Linked DNA regions of Homo sapiens: all the other regions are linked to region 4. The links come from fine-mapping of genetic effects on gene expression. A gene starts in region 4. Each other region holds a variant in brackets. All regions are shown on one strand. Distances are between the middles of the regions. Region 1 overlaps PGGT1B (protein geranylgeranyltransferase type I subunit beta). Region 2 holds the start of PGGT1B (protein geranylgeranyltransferase type I subunit beta). Region 3 overlaps PGGT1B (protein geranylgeranyltransferase type I subunit beta). Region 4 holds the start of CCDC112 (coiled-coil domain containing 112).

Region 1 (8,109 bases), 55 kb before region 4:
AATCTAAATGAAATACCACAGTAGTGATCACCATATAAGAAACTAAAAAACGATACAATTAAAATAAACTCTTCTGCCTTCTATAATAAATGTAAACTTTTACAATCATTGAAATGCATAAAATCCTGGTTCTATTTCTCACTGGCTTGCTTAATGTTCCTAATCCTAGAAAATGAAGATATTAGTACATCACAAGGTTATTGTGACGATTAAGTAAGTTACTGTCTAAAAAGCTGTTACTTATCTTAATGGTGACTAAGTGCAAGGCAAATATCAGACGGACCACTAGTTCTTTGGAGTCAAGATCCAAGGGTCTTGAAACCACCCATGAATCGTAAGATTTTCTTGCATACTTACCTTCTATGGTTCCTCACAGAATGAATTTGAATGGTGTTCACTACCCTTTTTATAATAATCTGAACCCACCCCACCTACCCACCTTTAGATACACATTTTTTTTTTTGAGATAGGCTTTGCTCCGTCACCCAGGCTGGAGTGCAGTGGCACAATCTCGCTCACTGCAACCTCCGCCTCCAAGGCTCAAGCAATCCTCCTGCCCTGCCTCAGCCTCCCAGGTAGCCGAGACTACAGGCACCTGCCACCACATCCAGCTAATTTTTGTATTTTATGTACAGAACAGGTTTTTCCCATGTTGCCCAGGCTGGTCTCAAACTCCTGAGATCAAGTGATCCATCCTCCTCATCCTCCCAAAGTGCTGGGATTGCAGGTGTGAGCCACTGTGCCTGGCCAGATATGCAGTTCTTTATATGGTCTCACAAATGTACCAAGCAAATTTCCATCTTTATGTCTTTCATTCTAAGTTCCTCCTTAGAACTCAAGCTCTAGTTCTCCTGGCTATCCTATTCCACATTTACAACTGACTTCTTAGAATTCCTATTGCATATTTAACTTTTTGATACTTAAAGTAAATACCTGCTATGTTAAAACAACTGCATGGAAGCCAAACATAAATTAAATGTGGTCCTTAACCTTAAGAGCAGAAGATAAGTCTACTCAAATAATTACAATAGAATGTAATGAGTAGTCATAAGGGAGGGATAATAATAACATGGGTTTAAATAGGAATTCTTTTCTGCAGAAGAGGAGCCTGGGCAGGTATAGATGAAGAGGAGGTATTACAGGTAGAAGAAAAAGTAAACGCAAATTAGAGAAGGATAATTCTGGGGTGCACATTAAGGACAACACAAAATTTGCTAGAGAGCATGGGATTTGTGAAAGGAAATTGTGACAATAGTGGGAGGATCCATCAGTGTTTCTCAAAAAGTGCTCTACAGCCATTGAAGGTCCCAAGCATTTATCAGGTAAGTCAGTGAATGGTCCATAGGTAGTTTGGTGGCTTCAGAAGAAAACTCAGTGACAATATTTTATTCATATACTGTACTGGACAATCTAATGTGCCTCCTCACATTCTCTTGGCCTAATCTGTCTCCTAGACGCTCAGTCACCACTCTCAGTGACGGTTCTATGTGATACCACTTGGAATATCTAGTTCCTTTTACCACCCAGAATTCAGATGAAGGTAATACAGCATGAAGTGAGACCTAGCTTGCCCAGAAGATATCAGGGTGCAGGTGAATGAAGGTCCAAAAAGGAGTTTCAGGAGACTCTGTGAACCAAGGGCAATAATGGTTTTTTCTTCAATTTTACTCCTGTTATTTTGAAAATGTTTTGGTGCAGGCGTTGGTTGGGGGAAGGATCATATTTTAAAAGTAATGTTATTAAAGCACTGTAACAAATATAGGTAGACATCTATATATAGTATAGTACTATATAACGGTCATCATAACTAGTGGCACGATATTCTGTTCATTATGACTAAATGAAGACATTACCTGTATTCTGGATTAGCTTAAGGTGGAAAATATGATAGGCATGAAAAGGGACAAATTTTCTGAATCCTTTGTTTTCTCATTCCCTGCTAAATGCAGTGGGCACCCATAATTGGAGTCCTGCTGGTAAATTCATATGACCTTGACACAGGCAAGCTGGTTTACAGCTTAAGGCAGAGGAAGAAAGCTGAAGTAGTACCTCTATCAAAGTATGTCATCTTCTTCAACATTACTGCTATTTATTCCAAAAATTTGAAGCTGATTACGGAAAAACTGGTAGCTCTCCACTTACCTTGCAAGTGGATACTCAGCCCAACAAGATACTGGCTTATAACCATTACATAAGCAGGCTGGCCCCATCAGGGAAAAAGTTTCTATGGTGTGAGGCCGCTTTAGAAAAAATGATGCTTTTCTCCACTTTCTACTGTAGAAAAATACTTGTATTTTGTGTACATATGGAACACCTACAAAGTTTCTTCTGGGTCTGCTCCTTTGAAGAAGAAATAAAGCTCCTCCCTCTGTTAGGACTCACTGTTTTTATATTGGCATGTGCTGGTATCAAGGCCTTTGGATATAACCATGAAGAAGTTCTGCATATTCTAATAAAAGTCATTAAAATAATCACTACCTAGGTCTTCAATCACTGCCTTTAGAAGGGCTTTTTCTTTTATTCCTAAGAAATGTGAGCTAAATGTAGAGTCTTTCTATAAACACAACAAAGTTTACTGGCTTCTTACACAGCAGGTATCAAAACACTTCAGTGCTCTGTTTTCCTTTACTCAGGAAATCACCAATAACTTTTACACACAGATGTATGATACTGAGACAATTTTTTGTAACAATTAATAGAAATTTGTGTGTGTTTATGTACTGCATGTATTCTTCCCGGAAGAAAGTGCACTTCTTTGAGGAAGTAAAGTAGGTATAGGTTTCCTTTAAAGGATTTCAGTTTATAATATATATATATTATTAGACAACATTTAGCCACATTGAAATCTGGAAGCCTGTTTTTTTCTGTGTAACTTCTTAGTTTTCTCTTTTATTAAAATATCCCTACATCCCTTCTACTTCCTTCTGAACCAAATAGAACCAACCTTTGATGGATTGAACGGAATACCCAGGTATGAAGAGCCTCGGAAACCACAGCGATTTAGATTTGATCCTAGAAAATAAAAGCATGTGCTTATTTAAAGTACACTTTATTTTTGCACAGATTCTAAAGCAGTTTAATTACACAATCTTTCAGAAACAGACTATTTTAGTCTCCATTTTCATACTGGCTAATGCTGAATGCTTACCATGTGCCAGGTCCATTCTAGGTGCTTATGGGAATTTCCTCATTTAATTTCCATATGAGTCACAAAAAACATAATTATTTCTATCATGTACCTTTTTTTAATAGCCCACCTCACTGCCTATACAGTCCTTTCATACTTCTCCTGTCAGATCAATTTTTATGTGATCAACATGTTCAATCCCCCTTTCTACAGAACAGAAAACAGAAGCCCAGAGGTTAAGTGATTGTTCAAGGTAACGGTTAATAACACAATAGGGTCTACTGTCTTTTTACTTTAACTCATTTAGTGTGTTTTTACTTTAACTCATTGCTTCTTTACATGGGAGCAAACTAAAGGTTTAAAGCTGAAGAGAAAATATGTACTTTGTATTTCCACATTAGCTAGACCTTCGTTCTGAGTCCAGTAATCCACTTGGCTTTGAAGTATGTAGAACACTGTAAGTTAGCACTTAGTCTCTCTCTACTCAATCAAAATATGTTTATCCATACTTTTTTTCTATCTAAAAATTTTCATTTCTCAAGATATCAATGGAATATAAGTTGGGAACTTGAAAGAACAATCAACTATACAACAATTATGGTTTTAATAGCTATTAGAAAATCAGTATGATAGATGCAGAAAATAACAATGCAGTATCAGCAGACTGTAAATGCACCG[C/T]TGATAAAAAAAAATCGAGTTGGTCTAAAAATAGTCTCTGATATGAAGAACTACCTTCATAAGAGATTATGACTAGTGTATGACTAACTTCATTATTAACTGTTTTCACTCTCCTACTTCTGCATTAGGTACTATATTTTTTCAGCTTCTTATCCCCCCAAAAAACTTAAAATAGTAGCTTATACATTAATTCTTTGAACAAATTAGGAACCACTAAATTTAAACTCTCCACCAATTATCATCTCCCTACTGGCGAAAAATGTATTTTAAAAAGATACTAGCAGCCAGGTGTGGTAGCTCACGCCTATAATCCCAGCACTTGGGGAGGAGGCAGAGGAGGGCGGATCACCTGAGGTCAGGAGTTCCAGACCAGCCTGGTCAACATGGTAAAACCACATCTATACTAATAATACAAAACTTAGATGGGTGTAGTGGCACCTGCCTGTAATCCCAGCTACTGGGGAAGCTGAGGCAAGAGAATTGCTTGAACCCGGGAGGTGGAGGTTGCAATGAGCCAAAATCGTGCCACTGCACTCCAGCCTGGGCGACAGAGTCAAACTGTCTTGAAAAAAAAAAAAGATACTAATGGTGATTATGATTTCAGTGATTATGGTTCTCTTATCCTAAGGACTTTTAAATTGGTAAGCTACTTAAAACTTGCCAATATATAACAGAAGTTATAAAAACACTCATATCCTTTTGACCCAGTCAAATTATGGTTCTCTTATCCTAAGGACTTTTAAATTGGTAAGCTACTTAAAACTTGCCAATATATAACAGAAGTTATAAAAACACTCATAACCTTTTGACCTAGTCATGATATATCTGAGAATCAATTCCAATAATTTCAAGTATGAGAAGAAATGCACACTGCAGTTTAATAATAGTGAAAATCTAGAAGCACCATAAAAGTCCAGCAGGTTAAGCATATCATGCCTCATGTACTGAAAGAAACGCTATATTCCTATTAAAAATAATAATCAGTAGAACTATGTAGCAACACAGAGAAATGTATTTGATCAAGTTAAGCAAAAAAGTAGGATCCAAAAATAAATGTGCATTTTTATGTTTATAATTAAGCAAATGGCACATATCAACAAAGACTGGAAGGGAATAAACAAAATAATATGAATGGTGTGAGATGATATGAATAAGGCTGAAATTTGTTCTCTGTATTAGTCACTGTTGCCATAACATATTACCACAAACTTGGCAACTTAAAACACCTACTGCCTTACTGTTTGTAAGGTCAGAAGTCTAACACAGGCATCATCAGGCTAAAGTTAAGGTGTAGGCAGGGCTACCTTCCTTACTTGGAGGCTTTGGGGGAACAATCTGCCTCCAAGCTCATTCAGGATGCTGGCAGAATCAACTTCCTTGCAGTTGTGTGACTGAGTTCTCCATTTCTTTGCTGGTAGGTATCCCTTTTTGCTCCTAGATCCTCTCTTGCCATTTCTCATATATGGGCCCCATATCTCAGAGTGGCAACGGCACTCAAATCTTTTCCATTAGACCCTCTCTACCTTCTCTTCTCTCTTCTGCTCCCTTTCTCTGCAATTCCATGACGAACGTTTCTGTGTTCGTCTGCTGTTCATGTGATTATACTGAGCCCACCTGTACACATGTCACCTATGGATAAGCTCCACATTTTAAGGTCAGTTGATTAGTATAACTTTAACTCCCATCTACACAGTCCCTTCACAGCAGTACCCAGATTAGTATTTGACTGAATTAACAGGGAACAGAAATCCTGGGGCAACATCTTTAGAATTCTACCTAACACAGGTTGGGCGCGGTGGCTCATGCCTGTAATCCCAGCACTTTGGGAGGCCGAGACGGGCGGATCACGAGGTCAGGAGATCAAGACCATCCTGGCTAACACAGTGAAACCCCGTCTCTACTAAAAATACAAAAAATTAGCTGGGCGCGGTGGCGGGCGCCTGTAGTCCCAGCTACTCGGGAGGCTGAGGCAGGAAAATGGCATGAACCCGGGAGGCGGAGCTTGCAGTGAGCTAAGATCGGGCCACTGCACTCCAGCCTGGGCAACAGAGCGAGACTCTGTCTCACAAAAAAAAAAAAAAAAAAAAAAAAAGGATTCTACCTAACACACCCCCCATATTCCAAATTGTACATAATGCTATACTTAAAAAAAAAATAAAAAGTTATCTTTCTCTTACCAAGTTATGAATTCATTTATCCTTTTTATTTTTGAGACAGAGTCTTGCTCTGTTGCCCAGGCTGGACTGCAGGGGCATGATCTCGGCTCACTGCAACCTTGCCTCGCAGGCACAAGCAATTCTCCTGCCTCAGCCTCCCAAATAGCTAGGACTACAGGCATGAGCTACCACGCCCAGCTAATTTTTGTATTTTTAGTAGAGACGGGGTTTCATCGTGTTGGCCAGGCTGGTCTCGAATTCCTGACCTCAAGTGATCTGCCTGTCTTGGCCTCCCAAAGTACTGGGATTACAGGCAGGAGCCCACCGCACCCAGCCTATCCTTTTATCATCACTTCTTTTAATCCTTCTCTAGTTGGATGAGGGGCAGTATCAAAAGGCGTATTTTCCTATATGATTAAAACATTTTTAAATCTTTTTTTTTCTCTTTTTGTTCTTGGGATTGTCTTTTTTAAAGGGTATCCTTTCAAGTTACTAATCTGCTAACAGTCCTCCATAAAAATGTGATCCCATTTCTACTTTTGATGGAAGACAGCTCTGATACCATCTGTCAGTTCTGCATTTATACTTGCAACTGGACACCTTTGTTGAGTACCCCACCAACTTAAACAATTCTGTCAGGTGTTTTACATAGAGGCAGACATATAGTAGTGGCTCAATAAAATATCTGCTTCTGAGTGAAATAAATGAATTTATTCATCTTCTTAGAGGTGAATCAGTAAATGACATTTCTGTTTGTTCACTTCTGTTTTTAGCCTGATTAAATAAATAACTTTTCTGAAAAGCAGCAGAAATATCAATACTTAAAAGTACCATATAAGGTTAGGAGATTATGGCATGGACACTTGGAATCAAACTCAGGATCCTATTCTTCCTATCAATGAGTTCTATAGGCAAGTAACAACCTCTCTGAGCCAGTTTCTTCCATTTTTGAACTAGTAACAATAACATATTGCAAGTAATATACTTCAGGCTTCTTGTAAAGGTTAAAGGACATGTTTAGATTGTACTTAGCAAAGTGAAACAAGGCTTAATAAACAGTAACCATTCAAAATCAGTTAATTGTATTTTATCAAAAGTGAAACAGGAAGAAATGAATAGCTTTTGTTGCAATTTATCAAGGAAAGCTTTTTTAAAGTAAAAATGTTTTTCTTTTTTTTTCCAGAAAGACTGTATACTGTCATGAAAAAAGTGTTTGGATCTTAAGCACCACGGTCACAGTATAGGGAAAAGACAATGTAGTATTTTTTGCCTTCTTCTTAATCACCTGTGGACTATGAAACTGGATAAAGAAGTTTATTCTAAAGTTTATACTTTATTCTACAGTAAGAGAATTCTCCTGTTTCTTATGAAAAGCTATGATGAAGTAACTAAGAAATCAAGAAAATTACTCATTTACTAAATTGAGTTATCAGTCACACACTTAAATCCTAATGTTTTAAAAAATGATGCTCATTAGGAGGTAACATTTTCACCACTTAATTTTTCACCACTTAGGCCGGGCGCGGTGGCTCAAGCCTGTCATCCTAGCACTTTGGGAGGCCGAGGTGGGTGGATCACCTGAGGTCAGGAGTTCGAGACCAGCCTGACCAACATGGAGAATTCTACCCCATCTCTACTAAAAGTACTAAAATTAGCCGGGTGTGGTGGAGCACACCTTTAGTCCCAGCTACTTGGGAGGCTGAGGCAGAAGAATTGCTTGAACCCGGGAGGTGGAGGTTGCAGTGAGCCAAGATTGCGCCACTGCACTCCATCCTGGGTGACAGAATGATACTCCATTTCAAAAAAAAAAAAAAAATTCACCACTTAAAAATATTTATTAGGTACTCTTTTGCGGTTTCTGTCAATATTTGTCTGCTCTTGTGTGCTTTCCTTTGGAATTCTAGTAAGCATACCTTTTCATGATAATTAAGAAAGTATACACACACAATTCATTGTAAATTTATCGCTGAATGCATACTCTGGGTACAGTATAAATTTCTTTCCAGGTTATCAAACAGCACCATCTAGTGTTCCTATTTAACAGTTGCAAAACAAACTGAAAATTCTTTGTGTGGTCTGGCTGCCCATCAGAATCAATTGCCTATTTTGAAAAAACAGAGATGCCTCTTGCATCTCCCCTCCCATGCC
Region 2 (8,109 bases), 35 kb before region 4:
AAAGACTGCATGAATTCTGGAATTTTAAGCATTATTCTTCATTTATAATTATTTTTCAATGGCTGATTCAACTGGTAAATACTTTTAAGTACAGTCACATATCTGTGGAATTATTTAACTTGTAAAATAGTTTTTCTACTATCATACTTTTTCAATAAGAAACATCTACTGAACACCTACTACAGACTAGATGTCACCACAAAAATGAATAAAGCTTCCTAACCTTAAGGAGGTTACATGTTAAGTGCTATTACATGAATCATCTTCTTCCTTTCTCAACTGGCTCCTTTTGCCTTTTATTATCCAGACCAGATAGCAGTTCCAATTCAAGAATCCTGGGACTCCTTCTTTTTCTTCATCCCCTCTTTTCTAGCCCTACTTCACTGCCTCAGCATCTCTCTCCTGGACTACCACATGAGTGTCCTCATTGGTCTCCCTGGTTCTGGTCCTGTACCATGTGATATATGACTATATATATGACTATTCCTGTCACTTACATGATATCCAACTCATGTTTCTAGACAAGCACACAAAGCTTTCCATGATCTGATGCATGCCTACCTCTTCAGATTACATTCCTACCATATCCCTTTACATTTTGAACCACTACTAGAGAACTAATTGAAGTTTTCTGCTCAACACTCACTTCTCCAGCTTTATTCTTCTTATTGTCCATTTGCAACAACAACAACAACAAAACACTGGAACACATTCTTTAAGATTTAGCTTTGGGATTACTTCTTCCAAGAAGCCTTCTCTAGTCCCTGTCTCTCTTCAGGCTGAGCTACTTAGGTACTTCCAGAATGCCCTCAGAATATCACAATCATTTTGTCTAGTCAGGGGATTAGCCATAACAAAATCATCTGGGCACTTGTCAGAAATGCAGCATCTCCGGCTCACACTCAGCATCACACTCCTCAGCTATTGCAATATACTTTAACAGGCTGCTTCATGCAACACCGCAGCTCTTTCGCCTACCATTAGATTTACAGTTCCCATAAAGTAAATTTCTAAGACCTTAGACGTTCTCTGCTGCTCCTACACGTAAAACACCATACAGACACTCTATTAAGAGTTAATAACTTTACAGAGGACTGGGATGCACAGGAGTATTCATCTAAAAATACAATGACCCAGGCTTATGCAATCAGAATCTGCATTTTAACAAGATCCCCAAGTGATTCACATACACATTAGAGTTGGGAATCACTGCTGTAATAACTGCATATTTGTTTCTCCTATAAGGCAAACAGTCTCTAACTTTAGCCTGCTTTAGAACCACCTGAGATGCGTGTTATAATGCAGACTCCCAAGGCCCACACAGAATCCAATGAAGGTCTGGGAAGGGGCCCAGGTATGTGCATTTTTGAAAGCACATACAAGCCATTACTTAGAGTCTCCCACCACTACACTTTGAAAGATGTACTGCTAGACTGTGATATATTTAAGATAAGGGGGCCGGGCACGGTGGCTCACGCCTGTAATCCCAGCACTTTGGGAGGCCGAGGCGGGCGGATCACAAGGCCAAGAGACCAAGACCATCCTGGCCAACATGGTGAAACCGCATCTCTACTAAAAATACAAAAAATTAGCTGAGCGTGGTGGCACACACCTGTAGTCCCAGCTACTTGAGAGGCTGAGGCAGGAGAATCGCTTGAACCCAGGAGGCGGAGGCTGCAGTGAGGAGAGATGGTGCCACCGCACTCCAGCCTGGTGACAGAGTGAGACTGTCTCAAAAAAAAAAAAAAAAAAAAAAAAAGATAAGGGAGGAAACGAAAGAACAAAGTAGTTGCAGAATGGGAGGCAGGAGAGAGGTTACAACACAGGATACACAGGGGAAAATAGAGGGACATGAGAATACAAAGACTAGCTAGATTGTAAATGCTTTGTGAAATAAAAGCTAACTGCCTAAACCCTTCTTCTAGAAGAGGTGACTGTAAAAATAACAGAAAATTGTCACTACTTTGTTCCTTAATAAAAAGGACTACTCTAATTCCTATTACCCAAATACAAATGGCAAGAATAACTCATAACCACACTAAACTCCCTAAACTACTTATAAAAGAAACCTGGTAATTGATAAAGCTCCCAACCCAAGATTTAATATTCACTTGGATTATAAACTAGTAACTATCATTTTAAGAAGTCAATATAAAAGAAAAATCTCTGATGAAACCGCAGACAATACACTCTTTATTTTCATAAAGTCATTGTCACTAGAAAAGTAAAAATTATTCCTATTGGTCAGGCTAAAAGAAACAAGAAAATAAGAGTAATTTTGCCAAAATGGTGAATCTGAAAATAAGTGTCTAAATATCCAGTCTAATATTAGCCTTCTCAAAGCTTTTTCATACCTATTGGTAAAAAGAAACGAACAGAGGAACACCTGAATCATTAGTTTAACACTGTATACCTGTACCTAGACACATGGGGAGGCACTCTATGAATGACTGTGGAATTTAACTGCAATACCAGGTAAGAGTTGTGGCTTGCCCAATGTACTGTTTTGTCTTAAAGATCAGCAGAAACTTTGTGACCGGTCACCTTTGCTGAAAAGGTTGGAGTTTCTTCACAAGCATTTTAAAGTCAGTTATGAATCACATGCACCACAAAAGAACTTAGTGCTAAAGAAAATAAAGTCTGTGAGTTAGGAAAGAGAAAAACTTAAAATCACTACAGAAACTGACATATGCAGTTATCTTAAATGCGGTTAACTAGGCTATAAGAAAACCAAAATGATGTAAAAATTCTATTCATATGACAAACATTAGACAAAAAAGGATACAATATTGCTTAACCAATGCACCAAGGTGTTATATAACACCTGGTGTCGATCCTATGCTCATACTAAAGTTAAATAAGTCAGAAAATTTGTGCTGTTTTACTTATGCTGTGAACAGAATTACACAGTTTAATGCCAATGTGCATTATTCTATATGGATTTGTCCAAGCTGGAATTTTATAAAACAGGCCAAACACATTGGCATTTTGAAAATTAAATCACAGACTTATAGTGATAGCTGCAAGCAAAGTTCAACTGTTTAACAATCACAATTTAATCAGCTCACAGGACTTATACACTGCATCTATCTAAGCAGTGTATGTATACGATAAATATGCACATTATGTATCAATAACAAAAACAGGATGGAAGACTTTTTATCTAAAAGCTTTGAATTCACATAAAATTAATCCCTATTAAGATATAAACAATTTATCAACATTTTAAAACATCTCATATCACTACAATCATAACCTTTCGGTTTGGAAATCTGAATCTTTCAGTGAAGGTATAGGCTCTGCTAATCGATCAACACCTATGAGAGGAGGAAGGAATATAAACGTTTCACTCTTTCTTTTGTGAGAATCTGTTCATCCTTCAGGGCTCAGCTCACATTATTCAACAAATATTTCTTAGTGCTTCTCAGATACCAGGTACTATTTAAGGTCCTAGTGCAATGTTGACCAAAAGGACTAAGCTGTTGCAAATGTTGAAATAGAAACAATTGCCACTGGCCAATATGGCAACTGGGTACTTGAAATGTGGTGGCTACTACCAAAAGAATCACTTAATTTTTAATTTGATTTAATTAATTCAAATCAAAATAGCCAAATGTGGCTAGTGGCTACCAGATTGGACAGGGCAGCCCAGTCCTAAGTATAGAGGTAAACAAGATAGACGAAAATGTTACCTTTGTGAAGTTTATAATCCAGTGTAATAGAAAGACATTAAACAAATAAACCAATACATACGTAATGTGAGGTGGTCATTGGAAGTGGTCCCTTTAGGAAGGGTGTTTAAGGAAGGCCTCTCTAAAGATATCTGGATTATGTACATGCCTGTCTATATACTCCTATGAACACTACACTAACATATAGCACAGAACTCTATACAAATGCTTGTCTTGTTCAGCTGTACTCTGGCACCTACCATAATGTGGTTCTTGACCAAGTGTGCAGAAGTAATCTGCAAAGCTCCCCAAACTGATCCGGTCATGCAGTGTTCAAAATACACCAGCAACTCAGAATTTGGAAAACGTGGGGAAAGAACACAGCAAAAACAAGCCGCTCTTTCCTCCCATCCAGTCTCAAGCAGCTTTTGAGCTTCACTTCAAAACACAGCAATGCGGAGCAAAGATTGCCTTCTCCTTTCTTTCTTCTCATCCCCAGCTTTTACTGTAAATGAAGTCGCTTAGTCTCTGCCGCACCACACTCTTCAGCTATTGCGATACTTTTAACAGGCTGCTTCACGCAACACCACACCTCTTTCGCCTACCATTAGATTTATAGTTCCCACAAAGTTTCTAAGACCTTAGAGGTTCTCTGCCGCTCCTACACATAAAACACCATACAGACACTCTATTAAGAGTTAATGACTTTAGAGAGGACAAGGATGCACAGAAGTATTCATCTAAAAATACGACGACAAACTTTGTCCTTTTCCTTTTACACTCGGAAGTAATGAGGCAAAGTGACAGGCTATGGGAGCGGGTAAAAAAGCAGCTCAGAGTTGCCAGAAGAAAAGGGAAGTGAAAAAGCCGGAAACTGGAGATGC[C/T]ACAGCCCTCGACCTACAGCCTTCCAGACCTTCCCACCGTACGGCGGGAGAGTGGGGGTAACCTCAAGCCCACTTGAAACCAGTCAGTGCCAACTGGGCGGCCGCGCAGCCCCCTTCCGGCGCCCAGTTTGCGGTCCGACTCCGCCGCGCCTTTCCGCTGGAGCCCGGGCCTTGTGCCAGCCTGGCTGACTGTGCCACGAGTTACCTGCTTGTCTCGAGTGAAGAATAGCGCTCCGGCAAAACCTGGAGGCAGCGCTGGAAAAATCGCACGTGCCGATCCCGTAAGAAATCCAGCCGCTCTCCCTCACCGCTCCCTGCTAGCCTCTCATCCTCAGTGGCCGCCATGCTGCTCCGGAAGCGACGTCCGCCGCGACCCGGAATCAGTGCCCGCGGAGAGAAAGAACCCTCCTGTGCTGAACCACAGGGTGCCGGGTGAGGGGACCTGCGCCCGCCGCAGACTAAGCCAGTATTTGAAACCGCTATCATCTGGGTCCTGTGCAGCACTTCCTCTCTCCGATATCTCCCTAGCTAGCGCATGACCCTACCTTTTCTACTCAAAGCCCTCGAGGCTTGTAAACACCTCGCAGGCCTTGTGAAAATCAAGTCCACAAATCCCTCCGTCAGAATTTTTATCTTGGGAAGCGCAAGGTCAAAAGCATCAAGTACGCTTTGAGACAATTCTGGCTCTGTAGAACCTGAGGATGGTATATCTGAAAACGAGGATGGATCAGTATAAACTTGCTAACAGATTCATTTTTGGAGGGCCAGTTTTAAGCCGAACGGTTAGGGAAACAGAAAAACAAACCAGTGGAGATAAATGTTTATTGACACTACAAAAGCTCAGAGACTTTCCTAATCTTAATCCTTTCTGGATACCAGGAATCACTTAAAAATCTGTGTATAATGCCCCCAAACATATACAACATGCATATTCATACCTATATATGACTGCTTGCGTCATTCTTTTACAAATCTTACAGATTTTACTTTGCTTGAGTCGACGTGTTATCAAGAATCAATGGTGCATCAATCTGCAACAGCAAAATAAGCTCAATATCTTCTCCAATTACCTGCATTCTAAAAAATTTAAACATGCTTCTAGTTCTTTTTTCCAAAAATAGGGATTTAAGTTGTTTAGCCGGTATACTATGCCCTTTAAACTTTCATGAGGCATTCCTGAGTAGCGGGTGGGGGGATCCACCCAATAATATAACTAAACTAGGTTCCCTGTGATCAACTTAGCTAATAAAATTTTGGGTTTAATTTTGTTAGCTTTCTTAGAAAATGTAATTCTTATACTCTATGGGCTGGGGTAATCTTACACTTATTCAACAATCCAAAGTGCTCTGAATAATTTTTGGTACTATTAACTACTTATTCACAGGTATTCCTGCATGTCTTTACAAAATGCCGCATTTAACAGCCACAGACGGATTCTAGGCTGTCCTCGGTACTTCCCTACAAATACGGAGCTCACAGTCCTTGCCCTTCAGGTGTGCCCAGTCTGGAGTTTCCACTGTTATTAAAATTAAGATCTCTCACTTAGCACACATACCCCCAAATGCCTGAAGATTTTTAAAGTGGAGTCTTATACACATTTAACTTACTGGAATCAGCTATGGACACTCTATACATTCTCAGAAAATTAATTCTAATAAACATGGCCCTTAAGTTAGGGAAGCCAAATGTTTCATCTGATTCTCAGCTCAAGGACTAGCAATCTGATCCAAATCTAGAGGAAAAATTTGCAATGTGGGACTCATTCAGAGATAATACAGAATGCCTCCTAGGTCGGTAAAAGGCTTTCCATGAGTGATTTTATCCCTACAAGATTTTTGGCATGTGCATAACAGAATGGGAATGATAGAACATCTATATAATTGAGTGTTATTTAGCCATTACATGATAATGTTTGAATTAGGTAGAAATGTACGAAAATGTGTAATGCAATTATAGCATAGTAATTAATATGTACTGTATGACTGTAACAATTTAAAAATATGTAGGTATGTTTTTTGAAAAAGTTACCCTGGAATTATGGGTACTTTATAACATTTCTTCTTTAGTGTTTTTTCTATGTTTCTTATTAATGTAGTTTTTTTGTTTCCAGGCTTACTTCATTTTATTTTTCTTGTACAACCCGATGTTGTAGCCACCGCTGGAGCCTGGGTCCTCTGCACGGAGACTCTGGTGTGGGTCTTGAGGAGGTGGTCAGTGAATTCCTGATAGGGAGACTTGGTGAATACAGTCTCCTTCCAGAGGTCAGGGTTCAGCCTGCTGTAGACCTTAGAGATGGCATAAAAAATGACCATGACGAAGTTGCCCAGGATGGCAGTGCAGCCCCTGGCTGAGGTGTAGCAGTCATTGATAGCTGCCATCAGCAGCAGCTTCTTGGCCATGGGGGCCGAGACGATGCCAGTGCTCCTGGGCGCAGGGATGACCCGCGCCAGCACAGAGCCGTGGCAGCCTGTCACCTTGCAAGGGATGGTGTGGGGCTTGCCGATCTTGTTCCCCCAGTAGCCTCTGCGCATGGGCACAACGGAGAGCTTGGCCAGGATGATGGCCCCGCAGATGGCAGTGGCCACCTCCTTGGAGCACTTAACACCCAGATCAGTGTGGCCACTGTCCCTGATGGCAACAAACGCCTTGAACCTGGTGTTCTGGCCGGTGCAGGTCTGCTTCTGCACTGGCACGTCTTCAAAACCTCCTTCTTGAGAGAGGCCCCAGGAAAAAGTCAATGATCACAGACTCCTTGATGGGCAGAGAGAAGAGATAGATCTACTCCAGGGACTTAATCTTCATGTCCTTGACCAGGCAGCCCAGCTTGGTGACAACCATCTACTCCTTGTCCTTGGTCTTGCCTCCACGAGCTCTGCAGCTGGCCCCGGCCCCGTCCATGGCCGCGACACGAGTTCCCCATCCCAGGGCCGGCTGAGACCCCAGTTCCCCATCCCAGAGCCCCCCGGGCCTCCGGGCCTCCCAGGTCCCCCGCTGCACCGGCATCATCCGCGATTTGGTGTTTTCTCAGAGAAAAAGCTAATGTACTTTTTAAACCAGTATAAGAAATATTTATTTGACATCTTGTTTATGAACCTGTAACTTCTATGAAGTCTGTAACTGAAGATATTTGTTTATCTTACATCTTTTATATAAAGGATCTATATAATAAATTCATCATTTATTTCAGATTCAGCTAGAAAAACTGATTTCTTCAGAGGAACTTCCATACTTTTCTTTATTTAAAAAAAAAATAAAAAAACAAAGCCATAAGAATCACATCATCCAGAATGCTTACCTTGGATACAGGAATTTGAAAGCTGCATTTCGGTGCAACAAAAAGCAACACGTAAAAAAGCAATATGTAAGAAACATTTTCTGTATCTTGTAGCTTCTCAGTTCTGCTTTTAATTTCCTCATCTTGCTCTGTGTTTTATTTATGTATTTATTTTTTGAGATGGAGTCTCACTCTGTTGCCCAGGCTGGAGTACAGTGGCACAATCTCAGCTCACTGCAACCTCCGCCTCCCGGGTTCAAGCGATTCTCCTGCCTCAGCC
Region 3 (8,109 bases), 82 kb before region 4:
AGATTTCTTTCCCCATTTCAGTACTAGACGCAATAGTTCTGAATGTCACTGAGCAAGTAACGGATATGAGTTATTGATAAATTAATTACTAATGAAGAGTTTTTATACTACCTCCTTTATAATTAGCTAGTTCATAGACTTAAAACAAAACAATGAACAAAAACAAAACCCTATTTCTTACCCTCTAAATGGTCGCATTTCCCTTTCACTTACCTGAAAATATGAGAATAAAAATGACCATGTATTGAGTTACACCACTGAATCTGTTTGAATGGTTCTGTTTTTGTATTTTTTACTTATTTAATTTGAAAAAAATTAGAAAAGTATTAGTTTGAAATTAGAGCAGCTAACACACTGGGGGCAATAAATTAAAAACTTCAAATGGCTAAAAATGAAAACACAAAGTATCTTTCCTTCTAGATAAAAAAGATTGTTTTCTTCCTAGAAAGCAAAAAAAAAAAAAAAAAAAAAAAGGCAACTAATGATTTGAGAATAAAATCAAACATAACTGGTATTCACCACAGCAATGTCTAGATAAATGACCCACATAGCACAAAACTTTCTCATTCACAATCACATACAGTTAAGTTGCTTTTCCCTCAGTTACATAATAGTTGTCTTCAAACAATCTCCTTTTAGAAAACTATCACATTAGTTAAACCTATTTATTCTTACTATGAAGTTATTAACTTCATTTATATAGGCCACACAGGTTTAATTGGCACACTTTACTTAAGAATAAGACAAAATAAGTCACTCTTCTTTAAAAAAAATTATGGTCATCTGTTTTCAAAGAATAATCCCAGATACTTAATTAATTAAAGCAAATTTTCTACGATCAGCAGTGAGCTTTTTAAATGATCACTAAGTGTTCACCTGAAGATTATCAATGCTATATGAAGTGTAAACTTGAAAATTTGTGTCCATTTTATAATAAGATACAATTTGCACTGAAGAGTTTTTAAAAAGATAACCTACACACATACAGTTAATTTGCCTCAAACAACTTCTTAGAAATACAGTATAAACATTTAAGAACCACGACAAAGTTGTGGTTCAAACTTCAACAAAGATTTTCTTGAAACCCAGTATAAAGATTACTGGCTCAAGACCATATCCCAAAGTGAAATCAGCAGGAGATTTGATTGTAAGACTCTACCTTTTAAAAAAAGAGCACACTTGGTTATACATGGCTTTTAAACTTGAGCTACAGTTATGCTACAAATCCCCCCACCCTCCCAATCTAAAATCAGTCATGTGGAGATATGTACATTCTCTGAGCATTGTTTAGAGTCCTTGGTTTTCCAGCTTTGATGGAGATCTAGAAGGCGTTCAGAAGTCCGTGTGCTTACATTCAGAGCAGGATGAACTTTACAAATTCCACTTTCCTCCATTAGTGACAGGCCACAGATCCCAAAGTATGCATGCAAAGCATCTGAAAAGAAGGCATTTAAAACATCATAATAGGCATTCTTACTTGTACATTCTACAGAATATTTTAGCCACATATTTACCAGCCCATCACTCCATTAAAAGTAAGTTTAGAGAAATGCTAATATAGTTTTAAAAATATTTGCTTTCTCAAAGCCTCAAACACCAATTAAAAAAAAAACTCAGATGATCAAAATAAAATATTTTATTCATGAAAATATCATTAACAAAGGAAAACAGTTTCCAGCTGAAGAGCTGATACTGTCCATAACCTCTGTGATTAAAAGACAGGAGTAGCAGCAGTCATATGTAAGACTTCTCACTTTGGGGAGTTTCCCCTCTTGCTTACTAGAGAACATGAAAACGAGTAGCTTCAATGCTATATCATTAAGTTTTTTTTTCTTTAAAACGAAAACAAAACTCTGAATCTAAGTTGCAATATCCCTCGCTCCACGTTTTACCTCTGAAAGTTCCTAAACCATATGCAGTACTATCCTAACATTGTGTTAAATAAAAGGAGCTTATGCAAAAATAATCCATTCTGGAATGCTGTGCCATATTTAATCCTCCTATTTAGGGTAATGTCAGTCATTGTAAAAATATCTGATCTGACAATAAAAACAAACTCACATTCTATTTGGTTGAAATAATATGAGTGCTCATACCATGACAATTCTGCACTGGCTCACTAGTTTCCCATCTTTCAGGGGGCAGCGATCCTCTTCTATTAAAGTGGCCAATGAAATCACATGGCCATTCCTGCCTAGGAGTCTTATGTAGACTTCTGAAGAGCTCAGAGCTTTGCAGTTATAGGAACATTAAAAAGACAGTTTTGTACCAGTCAAAATTTTTTTCTATTTTTGAATTGGCCGACATTTATGGCCTTAAGAGCTATTAAAGTTCAAAACAGGCTGGGTGTGGTGGCTCACACCTGTAATCCCAGCACTTTGGGAGGCCGAGAAGGGCATATTCCTTGAGCCACAGGAGTTCGATACCAGCCTGGGCAATACGGTGAAGCTCCATCTCTACAAAAAATACAAAAATTACCAGGTATGGTGGCGTGCGCCTGTAGTTCCGGCTACTCGGGAGGCTGAGGTGGGAGGCTCACCTGAGCCTAGGGAGGTTGAGGCTGCAGTGAGGCATGATTATATCACTGCACTCTAGCCTGGGCAAAATAATGAAACCCTGTCTCAAAACAACAACAACAAAAAGTTCAACACATCTTACCACATCAAACTTTGTCAAAAGAGTTAAAGAAAAAGCTTTACTTACAACAGTATCACTTATTTTTCAAAACAGAAATGACAAATAGCTGTGCTTACTCAATGCCATTGTGAAAATGTTATTTAACTAATGGAGGCCCATGTTGATCACCTTTTAGGCCTTTTCAGAAAATACTTAGGTTTCTTCTGGCTCACTTTCCTTTGACTTTCAGACTATAAAAAATAAACTTGATTTCACCTGTCATATTACATCCATATAGTTATTCTAAAACTACAAAGGGTACAAAGCAACATTAAGCTTTGTTTTCTAGAAACTAGGAAACTTTTCTAGGAAAAAGTACAACAGAAAATATATATCTATAATAACATAAAATAGAACTGTGTAAAACTAAAATCTCTCTGGGTAAAGTAACAAATAAAACTTATTTGTTTCTCAAAAAGATTTTTGTAACAGCCAATGAGATCAGAACTCAATTGTTTGAAGCCTCAAATTGTGTTTTTAAAAAAACTCCTTATCTGTAAGTGGCAACGTACAAGCACTTTAGATGTGGAACTATATGTTTACTCCATAATAAAGCACTTTAGATGTTGAAATATATATTTACTCCACAATAAAAGGTTATTCTTTTGAAGTTTCTTTCATAAATGTATATAAAATC[C/T]CTTTGTATCAAATTTGCCACTAAATTCACTAGAATGAAGAATAAGCTTAATTTTAAAGAATCTTGTTAAAATGATTAAAGATTCTGGGACCAGATCTTTACACATAAATTCAATTTAGCAAAGCCCTTCTATGCTTTCTATTGCATACTCTGAAAACATTGTAATGTATCTGTAAAAAGTAAGTAGTACATCCAAATATTTACACAAATGTTAAAGTTAGCAACTGAACTCTCCGGAAAAAGCCTCAAGAACTTTCTTTTAAAAAAGCTATTGGAAACACTGAATGTATTTCAAGTATGTTTATACAAGAAATGTTTCCTAAGAGACTGTCATTTCCCTACTCCCATTATTTGTTAAAACAGTACCCTGCACTGGTTTAAAAAATGGAATGAAGACCAAAATAATTCTCAGTTTTGAGGCACTAGAGATATCAAAAATTTCAAGATATTATTTTGCTTGAGAAATTAACTTCTGAAGACACACTTTGGCTTACGACTTTGAAAGCAATGTACACTTTCTCTAAGAAGACATGTTTTACTACTGATTGATTGATTGAGACAGAGTCTCGCTCTGTCGCCCAGGCTGGAGTGCAATGGTGAGATCTTGGCTCACTGCAACCTCCACCTCCTGGGTTCAAGCAATTCTCCTGCCTCAGCCTCCTGAGTAGCTGGGACTACAGGTGTGCACCACCATGCCTGGCTATTTTTGTATTTTTGGTAGAGACGGGGTCTCGCCATATTGACCAGGCTGGTCTTCAACTCCTGACTTCAAGTGATTCACCAGCATCAGCCTCCCAAAGCTGGGATTACAGGCGTGAGCCACTGCACCCGGCCATTTATTTTATTTTATTTTTTGAGATGTACTCTTGCTCTGTTGCCCAGGCTGGAGTGCAGTGGTGTGACCTTGGCTCACTGCAACCTCTGCCTCCCAGGTTCAGGCAATTCTTCTGCCCCAGCCTCCCAAGTAGTTGGGATTACAGGCACCCACCACCACGCCTGGCTAATTATTGTATTTTTAGTAGAGGCAATGTTTCACCATGTGGCCAGGCTAGTCTCAAACTCCTTGCCTCAAGTGATCCGCCCACCTCAGCCTCCCAAACTGTTGGGATTACAGGCGTGAGCCAAAACTCCTGGCCTAGGAAGCATGTTTTATATGAAAATATAGGCAAGTAGGGGTGTAAGGAAATATTCCTGCTCATTTCAAATACAAAAATTGATTTCATGAGCTCCTTATTTATATTCTGATTCAATCACACATTCCAACCACAGCAGTTCTGTGATGGAAGATGAGTTGATGAGGCACTTTCCAGGCTGATAATAAAAACCACGACTCTATTGCAATACTGGCAAAAACAATCATTCCTTGTGTCTAGTTTCATATTTGTAACTAATTCTTTAACTACTTGCTTATCAAAAGTGTCAGTGTTTGAAATTATTTCAAAACACACTTAAATGGATTTTTATAGGGAAGCTGTATATAGACTCATTTTGCTGGAGGTGAAAACATATGTCGGGTGAGGTGTAGGCTGCAGAATGATGCTAGAGGTGGGAGAGGAGCCAAATTTTGGAAGGGCCTTGAGTGCCATGCCATTTATATTGTCTGAATCTGTTGAAATTTGGAGAACAAGAGTATGGGAAGTGAGAAACACATATATTCAGGATTTGAAATATTTTATTTAATGACTTTTTTTTTTGAGACAAAGAGTCTCGCTCTGTCACACAGGCTGGAGGGCAGTGGTGCAATCTCGGCTCACTGGAACCTCTGCTTCCTGGGTTTAAGTGACTCTCCTGCCTCAGACTCCCGCATAGCTGGGACTACAGGCACGCATCACCACACCTGGCTGATTTTTGTATTTTTAGTAGAGTCGGGGTTTCAACACGTTGGCCAGGCTGGTCTTGAACTCCTGACCTCAAGTGATCCACCTGCCTTGACCTCCCAAAGTGTTGGGGTTACAGGCATGAGCCACTGTGCCCGGCCTATTTAATGACTTCTGAAAAGAGTAAGAACTGATTCCCTTCAGGATTGGGAGTAATTTATTATACTTAGTTCAAGTCATGACTAATAATCCTAACGGCTTTGGATGGCCTAAATAATTCTCTTCTTTGGAAAGGACCCATTCAGACCATCTACATTATTGCTGCAAATGAAATAAAACATTACTAAGTAAAATATTTGGGAAAAAATGCACACTATTCCCATGCATCTTGATAATAAACTCTTTCATTTATACTCTCTAATACCCTAAATTTATCCTAAGCTTACACAATATACCTTTTAAAAAATATTATTTAATGTAACTTTGCAACTGGATATATTTTCTATCATATGCCTTTTCTGATAAAGATGCTTGAAGATCTATTCAGGAAATAAAGGTTGTTCTGATTCACAAAGAAAATAATTACCTGGATGACTGTCTGGCCACTTGGCAAATCCCCCTACAAGGCGATCTTGAGTTGATAAGATGTAATTTCTATTTTTCTCAAAGTTAGTGTATTGGAAAATTTTTAGAAGCTGAAATGACATGACAAATAAAAATTTACTGACATAAAACTCATATCAACCTTTGGCTCAAATTTCAGATACGTGTCATTTAGATATGCTTTTCTTTAGCTAAGGTGCTCAGACCAAGTCTCTGGGGCCTTGAGCACTTTTGAAATGAGTAAATCACATTAACTTTTTAATTTTCTTATCAAATCTACTCTCCTTTTCTCGACTCTCTATTTCCTTCTTCTGAACCAGGCCAACTGAACCCTTTAAATCACATTAAGCTAAATTCAAAAGACAACTCGAATCCACTCAACATAATCAGTCATTTTAAAAAGTACAATTTTATCTACCCATATTTTAACTCTTATGATAAGCTCTTGAGCTATTAGTTATAAACTAGTAGTAACTGGAATTAAAAATATTTTTTAAAAAAAGAGCAAACAAAAATTACTAACCAGATGCTACAGACAGTTTTGAAAATAGTAAAAAAGTATAGCTCTTTAATTAGGAAAGAAAAAGGTAAGACAAAAATGATTGCAACATAAAAAACTATATAGTTTTTAATGATTTAGGACATGTACTTGGCTTTTCTCTCAAGACCCCATAAAAGTAAAATACAAATAAATAAATAATACTGTGAAGTTCAAGATGAGGTGCACAGTAGGTAAGAGGGTTCAAGACATTTCTGATGATACAAAGCAATTTAATATATGTTAATGAACCAGAGAGAGCCACAGCTTTTAGTGACTAATGAAGAAGCATTATTTCTCAAAAAGAAAAGCTAAACTCATAAGAAAGTTATGGTACAAACAGGAAACAAATTTATTCATTTACATTGATTTAATTAATAAAATATAAGGAAAAAGACTTTTTTGAATCTTGATGTTAGGAATATTTTCCATCAGTGGCACACTGGTCATTACATAAAAATGAAAAAATTATAATAGTAACACTGCACTTGGCTTAGCAATAAACAATATTTTCACTATCCCATAATAAGTGTTGATTACTGGTTTTTAAATTTTAGAATCAACCTATAGGCAAAGGCTGAAAGATGTGATTATTAATATTGAACAAATATATGAATGTGTCCTAACTTAACATTATAAAAATAAAGGTAACCTTATATAGCATTGGAAGGTAGAAGATGAGGAAAATATTCAGAACTAACTATAACGGGTAACAATTTGTTGGAAAAGTGAGAGGCTAAATCTTAATTTCTCATAGTTGGGAATCATCAATAATGTCTAAAGGTGATAAGAAGTCAGTCTGTGATTTAAAGTTATGGTAATGTCCACAAGAATTAAAACATTTTTAAAAAGTTTAAAAGTGGTTGCCTTCAGAAAGCTGTCAAAGACTACTGACGTCAAATAAAAAAGACTTGGGACAACTTGAAAGGGTTCTTATAGACTAAAGATAGGACAATTTAAGCATTATATGTGTGTGTGTATATATATATATATATGTCATATATAACTAATATATATTATATATAATATATGACTAAAAAATGTTAAAATCTATGTGTTCACAATGATTCTCAAAAAAAAAAAAAAAAAACCCAAACTCTAAAATCTAATATTTTATTGGAAAGGCTGAGGGGATGGTAGGGAACCAACTCATTTTGTTGAACACTATTAAGGGAAAGAATTCAGTATTTATCTGTCCTTCTCTGTACAAAGTATATCTCAGGGTAAGGTAAAATTCTTCTTTAAAAAACAATGCTAGTTAATAAATTGAGAAGGAATGAAAGAATACCACTGTTTTGTAACCTCTTAATGCCATAATTGATTTAAGCAATGATCCTTAATGCCTGTTAAAACTATTCCATAAAAAGTTGGTAGTTACTATAGACTAGCAATGAACAATCCAAAAGGAAATTAAGAAAGCAATTTCATTTACAAGAGCATCTGAAATGATTAAATACTGAGAATTTAATCTTAACAAAAAGGTGAAAGATTTGTATGTTGAAAACTACAAAACATTGCTGAAAGAAATTGAAGACCACCTATATAAATGGAAAAGCATCCTGTGCTCATGGATAGGAACACTCAACAGTGTCAAGATATCACTACTACCCAAAGGGATCTACAGATTCAATGCAATTCCCATCAAAATTTCAAAAGACTTTTTTGCAGAAATGGGAAAGTCAATTACCAGATTCATATCAAATTGCAAGGGGCTCCAAATAGCCAAAACAATCTTGAAAAAGAAAAGTTGGAAGTCTCAAACTTCTTGACTTTGAAACTTACTACAAAGCTACAGTAATTAAAACAGTATAGTACTGGCACAAGGGCAGCCATATAAA
Region 4 (8,097 bases):
ACCCCATAAATGTATATAATTAAGATTTGTCAATTAAAAATAATGTTAATTAAAACAAAGGTGTTAGTAGGGCTACATTCATTCTGGAAGCTTCAGGGAAGAATCCACCCCCTTACCTTTTTTTCCAGCATCTAGAACCACCTTAATTCCTTGGCTAATGGCCCCTTCCTCACATCACTCCATCCTCTTCCTTCCATCATCACATCTCCTACTTCTGACTCTGATCTTCCTGCGACTCTCTTATAAGGACCTTTGTGATTACACCAGGTCCACTCAGATAATTAAGGTATTTAATTTATCTTAATCACACCTGCAAAGTCCCTTTTACGATGCAAGATTACACAGTCACAGGTGAAAATAGTTATTATTGAAGGGTTATTTCAGGCAGCCAAGGAACATAAAATTCAGGTCATCAGAGGGAAGGTCCTTAGAAACAAAACAGAAGACAGAGCCTTATGCTGGTACAAAACCAGCATCACACTAATGTGATACTGTTAAAGATACTTCAAAAAAGTCATAATTCAGCAACTACAATGATCAAGAGAACAGATGGTAACAAGAAGGAAATGACATTGGAGAGGAGGATAGAGATTTGCGGTCTTCAGTTTTGAAAGGCAATAGCTAAGAGGGGTTATGAACAAATAATATACAAATATTAAAAAGTATGGAAAATGTGTTAACTTTTCATAATGAGTGAGGAATTTATGAGATTCCACGCCCTGAGGATATTGTAAAATAAAATACAATATAAAATAGTTTTAAAACTTCAGAGATATTTACTCCAAAGTAATTTAAAGACACTGTGATGGACTGAATTGTGTTCCCTCAAAATTCCTATGTAGAAGGCCTGATCCCCAAATAACTCTATCTGGAGATGGGGTCTTTATGTTAAATGAGGTCATTAAGGTGGGGACCTAATTTGATAGAACTAGTGTTCCTATAAGAAGAGATGCCAGAGATCTCTTTCTCTCCTCTTGTAACAGAGAAAAGACTATGTGAGGACACAGTGAGAAGGTGGCTGCCTACAGGCCAGGAAAAGAGGCCTCACCAGAAACCAACCCTAAGGGCAACTTGATCTTGAACTTCTAGCTTCTAGAACTGTGAGAAAATAAACTTTTGTTGTTTTAGCCACCAAGTCTGTAGCATTTTGTTATAGAAGCCCTAGCTGACAGGAACTTTAGATATTTTGGTAGACATCTCTAGTATCATGAGATTGCCACCAGGAAAATTCTCTCTTCTCAAGAAAATACTAGTTGGTTTCAGTGTTAAAGTCAGTAGGAATATTCGTTCATTTAATCATATGACAAATATTCAAGTTCGGTGTTAGGCTGTAGAATTTGTGTGTATAGGTATGTGCGTGTGGTATGCTGGGGGAAGTACAAAAATGGATAACATGTAAACTCCTAAACATTATCACAATATAGCATGCAGTAATGCTGCATTGTTTTGTTTTGTTTTTTTAAAAAAGCCCAAACACACGTGAAGAATTCTACCTAACTATGCTGAGGTAGATTCTCAACAATGAGGCTCTGCTTTCCCTACTAAAGTGGTAAGACAGTATACACCATGGTTCTCAATCTCAGCACTACTAACTTTTGGACCAGATGATTTTTGTTATGGGTGGCTGTTCTCTGGCCTGTATCCATTAGATGCTAGCAGCCCCTCAACACCCCCCTGCTCCCCACTCTGACAGCCAAAAATGTCTCCAAACATTGCTAGATATCCTCTAGGGGATTGATAAAATATCTGAAAGAGCTCCACAGGTGATCTGATCCAACCCCTGAGAAGGCAAACATCACAAAAGTGTGCATCAATAACAACATTAGGCAACTCGCAAGAAATGCAGATCAGAAGACAGAACATTGCTACAAGAATTTAGAGAAATGATGGAGAAAGCCAGCAACATGGTGTCACACATTTTTTTGAGCATAGTACTTAAAAATACTTTACGTATTATGTATATTTATATATTTTACATTTTTTCCTGAGATACTTGGGACAGAGTTAGAATAATAAAGAGAATTATAGAGGATGTGTGAGAAAATTTGCCGTAGGTGGAATTTCCTGAAGGTCTACGAGTAAAGACACTGTATTTCCTTAAAGGAGGAAAAAGATGGAACCTCTCCTCAGCTCATGACAGCCTTCCTTCAGGTTTATATTGATCCACAAATTATTTAGTAAGTGCATACTACGTTCCAGGCACTACACAACAGGCATAGTTCTTGGTGCTGGGAATACAATAAAGAATAAAATTTCCAATACTTTCTGCCCTCATGGAGCTTACATTCTCATGGGGGTGCGAGGGAGGGTGAGGGGTGTGAGGAGAAACATAAACAATAGAAATAAAGTATGTAATATAATATATGGTACTAAGTGCTATGGGGAAAAATAAAACCAGAAACAGGGACTGGGTGTGCCGCGTAAGGCGATTCATTTTAGGGAGATCATGGAAAGTCTCGCTGAGCTGATAACATCTGAACAAAGATACCTTGTCCTCACCACCTAGAAAGCGGTCCTAAGCCGATCACTGGAAACACCTCTGCCTCCGACCATCCCATATTGTCTTTCTCCTTGTGTTCCCAGCGCCGGTACAGTAACAGAGCTGCCACCAATTACTGAGCACAGAGTCCCCCTCCAATCAAGCACTGTGCCAGGGGCTCCCCAGACATAACGTTAGTCCAAAGCTCGGGAGGTGCATGTTACTATTCCCAATTTTTAGAGAAGAAAGTGAGTCGCCGACAGCATATGTTCTTATCACGCGGCTAGGAAGCGGCAGAGCCGGGTTCCCACCCAGGTCTTCCTCGACTCCGAAACCACATGGAGGCGGCTCTGCAAAAGCTGTTAAACGCACAAGCCAACAAAGAGCAACGCCCAGCGCGTGCCAGGCCCCGAGCAGGGGAGGCGAACGCCGCGCCTCCCGCCGGCGCTGCAGAGGGCACCTGTTCAGCCAGGGCCTGCAGCCCCTCGCCTGCCGCCAGAGCAGCTCTCGGTTCTCCCGGATTTACCTGTTGAGGCGCTGGCGTCGCTCCCACGCCGGTCCCGGTGGCCGCGCCCGCCCCTGCCACAGCCCCGGCTACCGCGGTGGCCGCAGCCGCTACCACAACCGTCGTCAGTGCGGCCATGTTTACCCGCCGAGCTACTCGGGCCGCGGCGGCCACCGGTGCCTGGGGATTCGTGGCAGGCGCACCCTGGCCTCTGCAGACAGCTCCCTGCGCTGCGGGCTTGGCCGGGATGCAGGGCGGGGCCGAGATGTAGGGCGGGGTCGGGATGCAGGGCGGGGCTGAGATGCGGGGGTGCAGGGGTGCGGGGGTGCGGGAGGGGCGGGACTGGGGTGCAGGGCGGGGCCGAAATGCGAGGCGGGGGCCGGGATTCAGGCGGGGAGGGGCGGGGCGAGGGAGGGGCAAGGTGCCGGGCGGAGCCGGGATGCAGGGGAGGGGCGGGTCTGGGGTTCTGGGGCGGGCGGGTGTGGGGGCGGGGCGGGGCGGGGCGGGGGCTGCGCTCTGCCCTGTCGCGGGTTTATATACCCTTTGGGCACTTAACCGACTGTGCCAGCCCAGTCCCATACCTGTCAAGAAAATTCATTGTCTTACATCGTCCTTAAATTTTATTCGTGTTATAGTCAATATATACATATTTTTACCTAATATACATCCGCTTTCTAGGTTTCTACTTAGCGCTGCTGAGACTGAGTCTAAATGAAAAAACATTATCAATGGATTCTAACAATAAATCATATTTTAGATTTTTAAAGAAAAAAACCCAGCTTGCTCCACAGAACCAGATATCAGAGGCAGGAATGCCACAGTTACATTCCTAGGACTTGGTCAATGAGAAGACAGATTCCAAAAATACAGTGCTGGGAAGTTGGAAAAAAGCCACAGATGACGCTTCCAGTCAAGACAACCTGTGGCAACTGAGCTGATTTCTGTAGGTACTACCTTTTCCCCCTTTATAGAAATCGATTCATTCAGTCAGTCAATATGGAGCTCCTAGCATATGTCAGGCACTGTTCTAGGCCTTGGGAATTCATTGTTGAATTAGACACATAGGTAAGGTTCCTTCACCTTTAACAAGTAAACAAATAGGTATTTATTGAGCAATTCCTTTATGCCAGGGCTGTTATAAGTGCTTTATATGCACTTTTGCATTTAATCTTCACAAATAACTTCATGAAGTAGGTACTATTATCATCTCCATTTCAGTGATAAAGTTAAGGATCACATGGCCACACAGGTAGAGGGTAGGATACCTATCTAGACAGCCTGACTCCAGAGACCATCCTGGTAGAGGTATTAAACAGGCAGCGGGATAAACGCCTCTGGAGCCCAGGAGAGAGAGAGCTAAAGATACGAATTTGATCTTCCTATAGAAAATATTTGAAATAAGACTGAATGAGCTCACCCAGGGTGAGTATAAATTGAAGTCTGAGAACTAAGCCTAGGCCACTCCGAGAAGGTGACCACGGACAAGAGGAGAAGGGGACCAATATGGAGAGATCTGTGAGAAGGGAGGAAAACCGGAAGTCTGTGGAGGGAAGTTTTTGCAGAAGAGGCCGGACGTGGTGGCTTACGCCTGTAATCCCAGCACTTTGGGAGGCCGAGGTGGGCGGATCACGAGGTCAGGAGATGGAGACCATCCTGGCCAACATGGTGAAACCCCATCTCTACTAAAAATACAAAAATTAGCTGGGCGTGGTGGCGCCTGTCTGTAGTCCCAGCTACTCGGGAGGCTGAGGCAGGAGAATTGCTTGAACCAGGGAGTCGGAGGTTGCAGTGAGCCAAGATCGTGTCATTGCACTCCAGCCTGGTGACAGAGTGAGACTTCGTCTCAACAAAAAAAAAAAAAAAAAAAAAAAAAAAAAAAAAAAAAAAAAAAAAAAGAGAAGAAGAAGAGGGGAGAAGAAGAAGAAGGAAGAAGAATGGAGGAGAAGAAGAAGGCAAAGAAGAAGAAGGAGAAGGAGAAGAGAGAAGAAGGAGAAGGGAGAAGGGAGAAGGAGGAGGAGAAGGAGGAGCAGGAGGAGGAGGAGAAGGAGGAGCAGGAGGAGGAGGAGAAGGAGGAGGAGGAGGAGAAGGAGGAGGAGGAGAAGGAGGAGGAGGAAGAGAAGAAGAAGGAGAAGAAATAAGAAGAAAAAGAAAGAAGGAGGAGGAGGAGAAAATGGTCAGCTGTGTGGTTCACTGCCTAGAGGCTGAGTGAAGGGGTAACAAAGAAATGATGGTTGCATTTGGCAACAGGGAGGCCGTGGGTTTATGGGGTAGGTAGACCAAAGCCTGGCTGACTGCATTGAGGAGATAATGGAGGTGACGAGGTAGAAACTGTTTTTCGCTATGATTTTGATCGATTTTATGGTGCAGGTGATCAGAGAAATGAAGTGGTAGCTGGGGGAAGATGTGTGATCAAAGAGGGTCTTTGTTGTTGTGTTGTGTTTCAAGGTAGGGACTAGTAGAAGGAGTTCATGCTGCTGGGAATTATTTAGTGGAGACAGAAGTTTGATGCTGCAGGACAGAGGCAGTCAGACCCTCTTGAAAGTAAGGCTGATGGAGTCCAGAGCATAAGTGGGAGGTTTGGTCTTTGATAGACGCACAGACTCTTCTGACACAGGGAGGTAGTGGGTGGGGACTATGGGGAGGCCAGAGAGTCCTGCATACATGGGTTGCAGCACAAGGTAGTTGGAAGATTTGGAGGGAGGAGATGGTTGGCCCCACCTCCCCACCCCTGTGTGAAGTAGGAGGAAGTAAGTCACTTGGGTGTATTGAGAAGGTAAAACTTCTTTAATTTTTGTATTACCTTTTATCCAAATGAGCCCTGTTACTATAGCACTGTCTGAATTCCTGTAATTATTAGTCCAGAATTATCTTGCAGCCTCGGAAAAAAAGCAAGTCAACCAACGATTTGAGTTGAGTGGTCTTTTACAATTTTAATACTGCCACTAAAAATAAAGAGAAGCCTAAGATCATTTTGCACTTCCTATTGTTTTTAGAGTATATCCTGCACTGGATATCTAGAGTACTGTGTTCAGAAGTTTTCTGAAATCACCCTTTTCTCTATGTGCTATGGAATCAATTTGATATATATTTCAGTTCTTTTGATTACATTTGTGTTCAATTTCAATGTTTCCTTTTTTGTTTTGTTTTCTTTCAATTTACTTTTTTTAAAAAATAAGTAAGTTATGTATAACATGTATAAAGTCAAAACTCTATGACAAGGTATGTTTAAAGAAGGCTTACTCCCCAACATATCCTCTCCATGGCCTTTCAACTAATCCTCTATGGTAAATAATTGTGTTAATTTCTGGTTCTTTTATGTTTCATTTGCAAAAGAAAAAAAGGTAAATAGACAAATACATTTTTATTTTTCTTTTTTTCTTACAAAAACATCTAGCATATTATATTAGTGTTCTAGGGCTGCATAACAAAGTGCCATAAACTGGGTAGTTTGTAACAACAGAAATTTATTCTCTCATAGTGTAGTAGGCCAGAAGTTCAAAACCAAGGTGTGGGCAGGTCTGGTTTCTTCATGGGGGCTTAATGGGAAAATCTGTTCCATGCCCCTCTCCCAGCTTCTGATGATTGCCAGCAATCTTGAGACTCCTTGGCTTGTAGAAGCATTACTCCAATTTCTACCTCCATCGTTGCACAACACATATCTGTGTCTCTGTGTCCAAACTTTCCTCTTATAAGAATACCAGTCACTGGTTTAGGGCCCATTCTAATGCAGTATGACCCCATTTTAACTTGATTACATTTGGAAAGACCCCATTTCCAAATCAGGTCACATTCACAGGTACCAGGGATTAGGACTTCAGCATATCTCTTTCGAGGACACAATTCAACTGATAACACATGTATTATACTCTTGAAATTTTTGCTTAACAATATATACTGCACCTTGAAATTTTTGCTTAACAATATATACTGGAACTTGCTTCATGTCAGTTCACAGAAATTTTCTTAAATTTTAAAAATTAAATGCATAATCCTCCGTTATTTTATTCAGCCAGTCATCTGCCAATAGATATTTAGGTGATTTCTAAACTTTTGTTGCTGCAAGTAATGATTCATAAGTATTTCATATTTGGGAAAGTGATTATCTTCAGTAGAATAGCTAGGTCAAAGGTTAAATGCAAATGCAACCTAGTTAGATATTGCTAAATTCCTCTCCATAGGAGTTGTACCATATTGCACTGCCACTAACAATGTGTGAGGGTGCTTGCTTCTTTATTGCTTGAGATCTTAGTATTTAAGTTGTTGGATTTTTGAAAATCTAAAGAGATGAAAAATCGTATCTCTCAGTAAGTTTAATATGGGCATACCTGTTTTTATTGTGCTCCACTTTATTGTGCTTTGCAGGCACTGCATTTTTTACAGATTGACGGTTTGTGGTAATCCTGTGTCAAGCAAATCTATTGGTGCCATTTTTCCAACAGCATTTGCTCACTACGTCTATGTGTCACATTTTGGTAATGTGACGGTATTTCTCGAAATATGCTCACGATATTTCAAACTTGTTTCCTATTATGGTGATCTGTGACCAATGATGTTTGATGTTACCATTTTAATTGTTTTGGGACACCATGAGGCATGCCGAACTTAATAAATGTTTTGTGTATTCTGACTACTCCACCAGTTGACCGTTCTTCCATCTTTAATTTTGAAAGAAGTTTCACTATGAGTAAAATGCTATCAAAAAGCATAGAATGCTACAGAGAAATCTTTTGTGAAAGGAAGAATCAATTGAGGTGGCAAACTTCCGTTGTCTTATTTTACGAAATTGCCACAGCCTCCCCAGTCTTCAGCAGCCACCATCAACATAGAGGCAAGACCATCAGCAAAAAATATTATAATTCACTGAAGGCTCAGATGATTGTTAGCATTTTTAGCAATAAAGTATTTTAAAATTAAGGTATGTACATTGCTTTTTTAGATGCAATGTTATTACACACTTAATAGACTGCAGTATAGTGTAAACATAACTTTTATATGCACTTGGAAACCTTAAATTTGTGTGTAATATTTCCTGCAATGTTTCTGAGGGATGTCTGTATGCCTTTATGTTATTATGAGGAAGGTCAGCCTTTTTCATAAGTTTAAGGACAATTGC

The links.
Region 1: its variant is fine-mapped to the expression of CCDC112 in whole blood (INTERVAL, PIP 0.92).
Region 2: its variant is fine-mapped to the expression of CCDC112 in whole blood (TOPMed, PIP above 0.99).
Region 3: its variant is fine-mapped to the expression of CCDC112 in whole blood (INTERVAL, PIP above 0.99). The same link has a PIP of 0.9 or more in skeletal muscle.

Annotation. Positions count from the first base shown.
Region 1 is chr5:115,238,595-115,246,703 of GRCh38, forward strand. PGGT1B (protein geranylgeranyltransferase type I subunit beta) reads right to left here. Exons shown (of 9, transcript NM_005023.4): 3 at 2,945-3,012. Among named protein-coding and RNA genes, the nearest start is that of PGGT1B, 20 kb to the right of the region's middle. The variant C/T (reference allele first, on the strand shown) is at 3,806.
Region 2 is chr5:115,257,952-115,266,060 of GRCh38, forward strand. It overlaps PGGT1B (protein geranylgeranyltransferase type I subunit beta), which reads right to left and starts at 4,926. Exons shown (of 9, transcript NM_005023.4): 1 at 4,761-4,926. The coding sequence starts at 4,900. It also overlaps the pseudogene RPS2P26. RefSeq lists enhancers at 4,785-4,964, 4,995-5,044. The variant C/T (reference allele first, on the strand shown) is at 4,556.
Region 3 is chr5:115,211,149-115,219,257 of GRCh38, forward strand. It overlaps PGGT1B (protein geranylgeranyltransferase type I subunit beta), which reads right to left. Exons shown (of 9, transcript NM_005023.4): 8 at 5,717-5,825; 9 at 1-1,435. The coding sequence ends at 1,254. Among named protein-coding and RNA genes, the nearest start is that of TRIM36, 45 kb to the left of the region's middle. The variant C/T (reference allele first, on the strand shown) is at 3,314.
Region 4 is chr5:115,293,422-115,301,518 of GRCh38, forward strand. It overlaps CCDC112 (coiled-coil domain containing 112), which reads right to left and starts at 3,233. Exons shown (of 10, transcript NM_001040440.3): 1 at 3,006-3,233. The coding sequence starts at 3,122. It overlaps LOC105379129 (a long non-coding RNA gene), which reads left to right and starts at 3,507. Exons shown (of 5, transcript XR_948684.3): 1 at 3,507-3,927. RefSeq lists a silencer at 2,882-3,331.